Linked DNA regions of Homo sapiens. The protein of the gene in region 2 interacts with the protein of the main gene of each other region in a pairwise test. Each region holds a gene or a part of one and is shown on either strand. Other genes may lie near its edges.

What was found.
Region 1: the proteins of INSIG2 (region 2) and NEMP1 interact in binary tests that used the Homo sapiens proteins (3 or more experiments, as listed by UniProt).

Annotation. Positions count from the first base shown.
Region 1 is NC_000012.12:57,058,166-57,061,917, reverse strand, and holds part of NEMP1 (nuclear envelope integral membrane protein 1 isoform a precursor), read left to right. Parts: intron 1-972; coding exon 973-1,146; intron 1,147-1,858; coding exon 1,859-2,039; 3' UTR 2,040-3,752. UniProt on the Homo sapiens protein: Together with EMD, contributes to nuclear envelope stiffness in germ cells. Required for female fertility. Essential for normal erythropoiesis. Required for efficient nuclear envelope opening and enucleation during the late stages of erythroblast maturation.
Region 2 is NC_000002.12:118,098,389-118,102,140, reverse strand, and holds part of INSIG2 (insulin-induced gene 2 protein), read right to left. Parts: intron 1-3,752. UniProt on the Homo sapiens protein: Oxysterol-binding protein that mediates feedback control of cholesterol synthesis by controlling both endoplasmic reticulum to Golgi transport of SCAP and degradation of HMGCR.

The DNA.
Region 1 (3,752 bases), on a different chromosome or scaffold from region 2:
AAGCGATTCTCCTGCCTCAGCCTCCTGAGTAGCTGGGGTTACAGGTACATGCCACCATGCCCAGCTAATTTTTGCATTTTTATAGTAGAGATGGCGTTTCACTATGTTGGCCAGGATAGTCTCAATCTTGACCTTGTGATCTGCCCACCTTGGCCTCCCAAAGTGCTGGGATTACAGGTGTGAGCCACCTTGCCCGGCGTTTTTTTTTGTTTTTTTTTTTTTTTGAGATGGAGTTTTGCTCTTGTTGCCCAGGCTGGAGTGCAATGGCATGATCTCGGCTCACTGCAACCTCCGCCTCCCTGGTTCAAGCGATTGTCCTGCCTCAGCCTCCCGAATAGCTGGGATTACAGGTATGCACCACCATGCCTGGCTAATTTTGTATTTTTAGTAGAGATGGGGTTCCTCTGTGTTGGTCAGGTTGATCTCCAACTCCTGACCTCAGGTGATCTGCCTGCCTTGGCCTCCCAAAGTGCTGGGATTATAGGCGTGAGCCACTGTGCCTGGCTAGAACCACAGTCTTATACCATGATTTTCTGTTATTTTCCCATCTACTAGAAAATAAGTAAGTATTTTATCATTTATTGGAAAATAAAGTGAGTTTGTTCACATTAGTGAATAATATTGACTATAATTTTTTACTTTCTATAGGCATTTTTATATTTTTATTCTAGTCATTTTATATAAAATAAAAAGGTCTAGTAAAATGTCATGTGTTCCTGTTACCACAAGGTGGTGCAAATTATATCACTTTTTTTTTGAGATGGAGTCTCGCTCTGTCGCCTATGAATTGTCACTCATAGTCTAATGTATCAGGAGTTCATTATAACTAAAGATGTCCATGGAATTTTTAGGAGTGATGACTCTTAATGTTCAGGCTGTCTGCTGTATTCTTGGCCCACTGAAGGGAGCTAGAAGTAAGGATGGATATAGATTACTGATTAATGATTCATAATGTTATTTTGGTGAGCACAGAAAGGTGTGTAAGGGAGCAGAAAAGCCTGTTCCCCCTCGTCTCCTGACAGAAGAAGAATATCGGATACAAGGAGAGGTAGAAACCCGAAAGGCTTTAGAGGAGCTCCGAGAATTTTGTAACAGTCCAGACTGCTCTGCTTGGAAGACTGTTTCTCGAATCCAGTCTCCAAAAAGGTAAACTCGGCCAGATATACCAAGCATCTATCAGGGTAATTGTGACCTTGAGTTCTACCAGAGATCATACTTCTAGAGAATCGTGCACTTGTGACCTTTGTTTTCCTGTTAATCTTCAAGTAGTCAAGAGAAGGGTGGATATATAATCACACATTAAGCAGTAACCTGTTTCCTCAGGGAACTATCTACTCTAGCTTTGATTGTAGCATTAAGATGGGAAGACTCCAGTACCATATTAAGTTTCCCTTCTGAAAGTTTTGCATTGCTGTCTGAGTTGGTAGGGTTCCCCCCTACCCACTTTTTAGTTGGGGGCAAATGTACCAATGAGTATGTGAAGCTTCAATTTGGAATCATGATGGCATAAAGTTTACAGGGCCATAAACGTGAATAACTGTAATGCCCCTTAATCTTCTCTTATCAGGATTACAGATGACTAAAGGAACCTTGGCACTTTCATAATTAGAAAGGATAGGCAAGTGCTTATTAAGCAGGATGGAGTTGCAGGGGTATTAGCCTATGATCCCAGCTTTCCTTTTCTCCTTAACTTCATGCTTTAGTCTACTTACCTGCCAGAGTAAGGACAAGGATGTTGGCTAGACTTAATATAATTTGAGTTGCGAGCATATCGAGGGCTTTAATTTGTTCTTATTTTGAAAGAAGACCAGAAAGGACAGAAGGATATTTCTAACGAGTATTATCTTCTCTTTTCCAGATTTGCTGACTTTGTGGAAGGCTCTTCCCACCTCACGCCAAATGAAGTTTCTGTCCATGAGCAGGAGTATGGATTAGGGAGCATTATTGCCCAGGATGAAATCTATGAGGAAGCATCCTCTGAGGAGGAGGACTCATATTCTCGGTGTCCTGCTATCACACAGAACAACTTTCTAACCTAGGTAGTGGTCAGTTATCTTTACGTGGACTGGCTTGGTGCCTTGGTCCATGTTGCATGTGTTGTGCAATTGCTTTCAACCCTTTGAAACAGAGTGAGATAGATAGGGTAGAAATTCTCCTACTGAAATAAGAGGCCTAAAAAGGCCTCCCTTTGGAAATGGGAGGTCTCTATGGGATCCCTGAGGAAGGAGAGTGGATAAAGTAGTGAATGCTGGGTAGTTCACTTCCCATTGGTTAAGCTAACAGCCCACTTTTATGTTTCCAGAGAAATTGGATGGCCACAGCTAGCATGGCATTCTAGCTCCTTCTTGAAAGTTGATTCAATCATGGCATTTCTGTCACTGGCTGGCTCTCCAAAGTAAGAACTGTTGTTAAGTGCAGGAATGCTTTTAGACTATAGGCTGCAACTTCCAGAGAGAAATCCACAAATCTGAGCCTCCTTCACTCCAGCTTTTATTTCAGTGACTTTAGAATAATTATTGATTTAACTGTTTTGGGAGGAAAATAGATTTTTATTGTTTTGTTTTTTAAATGAATGTCTTTTAAAAAACATAACAAACTCATGTTCCAGAACCAGCAAGTGCTCCAGAGTGACACACCCCCTAGGCCCCTACATATTTATTAATATGGATTATCCATTAAAGCCCCAGGAGCTGTTGTTTTAAGCTTTGATTTAGTTCTCATACATATGATAGAAAGTCCTATTTGCCTTTAGGAACATGCCTGTAGGCTCTTCTGCAGGTGAGATGTACTGGGCTTTTTATTATATTCAACTTTCAATTCCATCTTAAAAAACATTTGTATTCTTCTCTTCCCATTCTTCCTTACCCTGCCTTTGCCCTTTCAGGAAGGGTCAGTTCCCTTACCTGTGAACTATGTATGTTCAGAGTAGCATTATTCCTGCTAGCTAGGAGAAGTCATCTTGTTTAGGGGATTTGGATGCTTTTTATACGTTCTCCATTTTCCTGTCATTGGGTCATGTTATCTTTGAGTTGCTATGAAATCAGGAAACTGTCTCCTTTTCCTTTCCCTTCCTTTGTCTACATGCTCTGTCCATTCCTTTCAGCCTTTTCTCACCACCCATACTCCCCCAAATCTGGGTAATTTTTAAGCCTTGAAACTATGTAGTTTCTTGATACACAATTTGTAGTTATGCAGCAGCCACAATTTGCATTGCCAGGAAATAGGCTCCAGGTTATCTTCATGCCTCTGGGTGCTCATTCAGCTGTCAAGTTTCCATGAACTTACACTTATTTATGATTGCGTTTCTGACCTGAGATGTATGCTGCCTGTTATTGCAGTAGCATTAGTTTCAGATTCTTTTGCCATTGCAAAGTACCCCTTATAAACCAGCAATGTCATCTGTGAGGAAGCAAATTCTCAAGTGTCTGTCATTTACTTGGTTCTTTTTCTTTGTGGTCTTCACCCTTATACCCTGGAAAAGTCTGTAATTACCTTAGCCAGGAAGATAGATGGTCATGGCAAGCGCACAGCACCAGACTTACTGGCTCACCAAGATGATGGAAAAAGGCAGATGATTTTTTAAAAAGCCGTAATGACTCCTTTAGACCAGCCATTTAGCGTGGTAATTTTGAAAGGCCTAGCTCCATTGCAGACTTCCAAAGGGTCAGCTCTGAGACTGCCCTCCAGGTGGGCAGTTGATTATTTCCACCAGTGTTTTCCAGAGCCTTAAACTGTCCTAAGTGACAACTACC
Region 2 (3,752 bases):
AACCAATACCACTTAAGAGGAATCATGAAATTACAACGCCAAAATCTAAGTGCCTGAGGGACAAGAGGCCCTCCCCCTACCCAGTATTAGCCAGCTGTATCTCACAGGCAATGCATTCACTCTTCGAAGAAAAACAGAAACCAATTAGTATCAAAAATCACAGCCTAGCAGACCAATGGTGCAGCATTTGAAAAAGGCTGTGTGACCACCCTTCTATCTCGAGATGAGATGCTGCAATACTGTATGCATTTTCTAGTCCACAACTCTTTTGAGTTAGGCATGTGCTGAGTATAGATGGCTCACAGAACATCAAGAGATTAAGAACATATCTCGGCAATGCAGAGCTCCAATAACTATTAGTAAATCTAGAAGTTTCACACTATATTCCTATTTAAAAATCTGCTCCAAAATCCTGACAAGATTAACTGACAGGATTTTAAAATTTCTATACAAATAAAATGGCAACAAGCATCCCTAACAGTTGAAATGTAGTTAAACGAATATCACCTCTTTTTTTCTCAAGGGGTCATAAAACTAACAGCTCATTTGTCACCCCCATCCCCCCACCATATATATCCTCCCTTTGCCTGTTGCTGAGTAAAGTCAACTAAGAGCAGACATTCCAAGTCAATTTTCCTGAGCAACTGATGCCTAGGTAAAGAATTATTACATAGAGAATACTGACATGTATGTGCAAAGGTATAAATAAGTAAAATCGACTATATTTTTATGCATGTGATGTCAGACTTGCAAGTGAGAGACAACTGAGGAGAGAAAGCAAAAACACAAAAAGAAATTTAAACTGCCACACTGCCAACCCTGGGATTTGCCAATAAAAATCAAATCCATTGAGTATGCATGGTTCTCAGTTGCTCACTGAGAGGGAGAATTCGAAGAAGCTTGTCACTTCCCATTAAATGTCTTCTTTCTTTCCTTTAAATAAAGGCATGGCAGAGTCTGATAGCAATATATACAACACTGTGAGGTTCCACTGTTTGAGAGCTCAACAGAGTATGTCTGGGCCTCTTTTCCTCTTCTTGTACTTTTTTTTAAAAAAAACAAGAAAGACTGTTAAAATCATGCCTGTGTAAAATCATATGCAAACACAATCCTGCTTATAAATCAAATGGTTCTCTGATGCAAAAATCACATTTCTTGTGATACCTTTAAGTTATTTCCCAGTGACTAGTTACAGTCTACCAAAGCTAAACACTAAAGAAGTTTGTAAAATATCAGTAGTAAGTCATCACTTTTTTATGGGAATGTGCTTAAATGCAGGGAGGCACTAAAAGGAACACAGTTAAAGTCAGACATTTTGTAAGAAAACAGGAACTGAATAAACGAAAACACTCCATGAGGTATACTTCGACGCAAAACTATAAGATAATATTTTCCTTCAACAAATACTTAAGCCCTGACAATATGTCTGGTTCTTGGTATTTGCTGGAGATTTAAAAAGGTAAGGCCAGGCGTGGTGGCTCACACCTGTAATCCCAGCACTTTGAGAGGCCGAGGCAGGCGAATCGCGAGGTCAGGAGTTTGAGACCAGCCCGGCCAACATGGTGAAAACCTGTCTCCACTAAAAATACAAAAAAATAGCTGGACGTAGTGGTGGGCGCCTGTAATCCCAGCTACTCGGAAGGCTGAGGCAGGAGAATCGCTTGAAGCTGGGAGGTGGAGGTTGCAGTAAGCCGAGATGGCGCCACTGCACTCCAGCCCAGGTGACGGAGTGAGACTCCGTCTCAAAAAAAAAAAAAAAAAAAAAAAGGCAAAAGAGTAAGATACGATTCCAATTGCAAAGTGACCACAGAAACAATTAAATACAATCCTGCATTAAGGGCAGCTGACAGGACAGAGGGGTCCCAGGCTTCTCCTTGCCTGTGCTAGGGGAAGGCAAGGTGCTGGGCTGTCAGAAAAGCTTCACGGAAAGAGGTGACCCTTGAGGCAGGAGCATTCAGCAGTAAATGGCGCAGAAATAGTGCTCTCATTAAAGGGAGGTGGCTGAGGACATTCATGGAAAACTGGAAACTGCTGGTGTTAAGAGGAAGCTGTAAGCTTCAGACACAAAGGGAGCTGCAGGGTCCAGAAAGACTCTGAAGAAGAAAAAAGCAGTCAAGGGCCATATTATAAAGACTTTACCCTGCAGACAATGGGCAATCAGGAAAACAATGTCATCACTGTTGTACCAGAGAGAGGCCATCTTCTTAGCAGTGAGGGTACCATACAAGGGGGCTGAGAAAAGGGTGGGTGCAAAACTAGAGGCCGGCAAAGACTAAAGACTCCAAGCACAGCCATTGAGGGATGGACCAAGAAAGAGACAGAGGAAAGATGTAAGACTTGGAAACTGGATGTAGAACGGGAGAGAAAGCAAGGAATCTTACAAGGCTCTACAGGAATAGGGCAAGGGACTGCACAGCTAAACAGGAAAGATTTTTCTTTTCTTTTTACATTAGATATTATTTTCATACGTTTGGACACAACCAGGCTACTTGTGATTTTTGAGGCAACTTCTCTACTTATTTTATCCACACGAGTTGTCTTTTTCTATTTATTCTTTAGAAAGATTTCTTTGTGGCCCTCAATAATGCTGAAAAGATTTCTAATTCCAATTCTGGTGCATGGCACACATAAGGAAGTTAACTTGTAACATCAGCATTATCAAACTAAAAATATGGAATTAAGAAAAAAAAGTCATCAAAATTAGTTTACCAAAGTTCTCTATTAGTTGTCCCACCAGAACCACCACTAGCAAATTTTCCAGGATTGTGCTATAGAGAAAGGTGGCAAATAACAAGGAGCACTTTCTACACACAGAAGGTGGTGATTCTGGAGCCCCTCCAAAAGGTGGCTGCTCTATCTATGAATGTTAGTTGAACAGGAAAATCAAAGGATGATTATCAGTTTTTCTGACTTAAGATGGTAAGACCCTAGCGAGGTCTTGAAAATCCACGCCAACACATATACACAAAAACATATGCATATTACATACACACACAAACTCAAACACACTATGTTTCTTAAATCATTTACTTCTTTTCCCATGATACTTTCCCTAAAATAATGATGCAGGGGATGGCAGAGCAGAGATTTTGAGAGAATCCATTTTCCATCTCTGGCAACTTGGACAAATCTGATATCTTTCACTCTCATCTACTAAACACCATGACTTAACTAACAAAATTGGTAGCAGAATTGGCTGGAATCTAGATTTCCTAATGTCTCTCTACTTTCTTTTGCCCAAGTACCTTATGGTACAAACTGCTTTCAGAAGAAATACTTAAGCAAGAAATGTAAATGCAAATTCCCCAAATGAGGTTAAGTTTGTAAGTGTGACAAACCTAGTGGCTGGGAACAGGAAGGAAAGTAGTGGCTGAACTGTGGTATTAGCATTTGAAATTTTCCTTCCTAAAATGTAAGTTTATGGCAAAAGTGCTGACATTAAAGGGGCAGAAGGACAAGACAGCAGGTGCAGCCCTGTTACTCTTCATAGTGGAGGTACAATGAAACCTCAGTTAAGTTCTCCTGCCCCAGCCCAAATGCACAACACACGCCAGGGAATTCCATCTAGGTCTGGCACCCAGTCTGGAGGCTTGAAAAGTGGCATCCTGAGTAGGGGGAAAAGTGTGAGTAGCTTCCTTTTCCCTTCCCCAGCATGTGACATGTGGACCCAGTCACACCACTCACTGGCTCTGGGACCCTGGGCTCACTGGTTTTCTTTCTTCATCTCAGTGAGTGTCCTCATCTCCCCATAA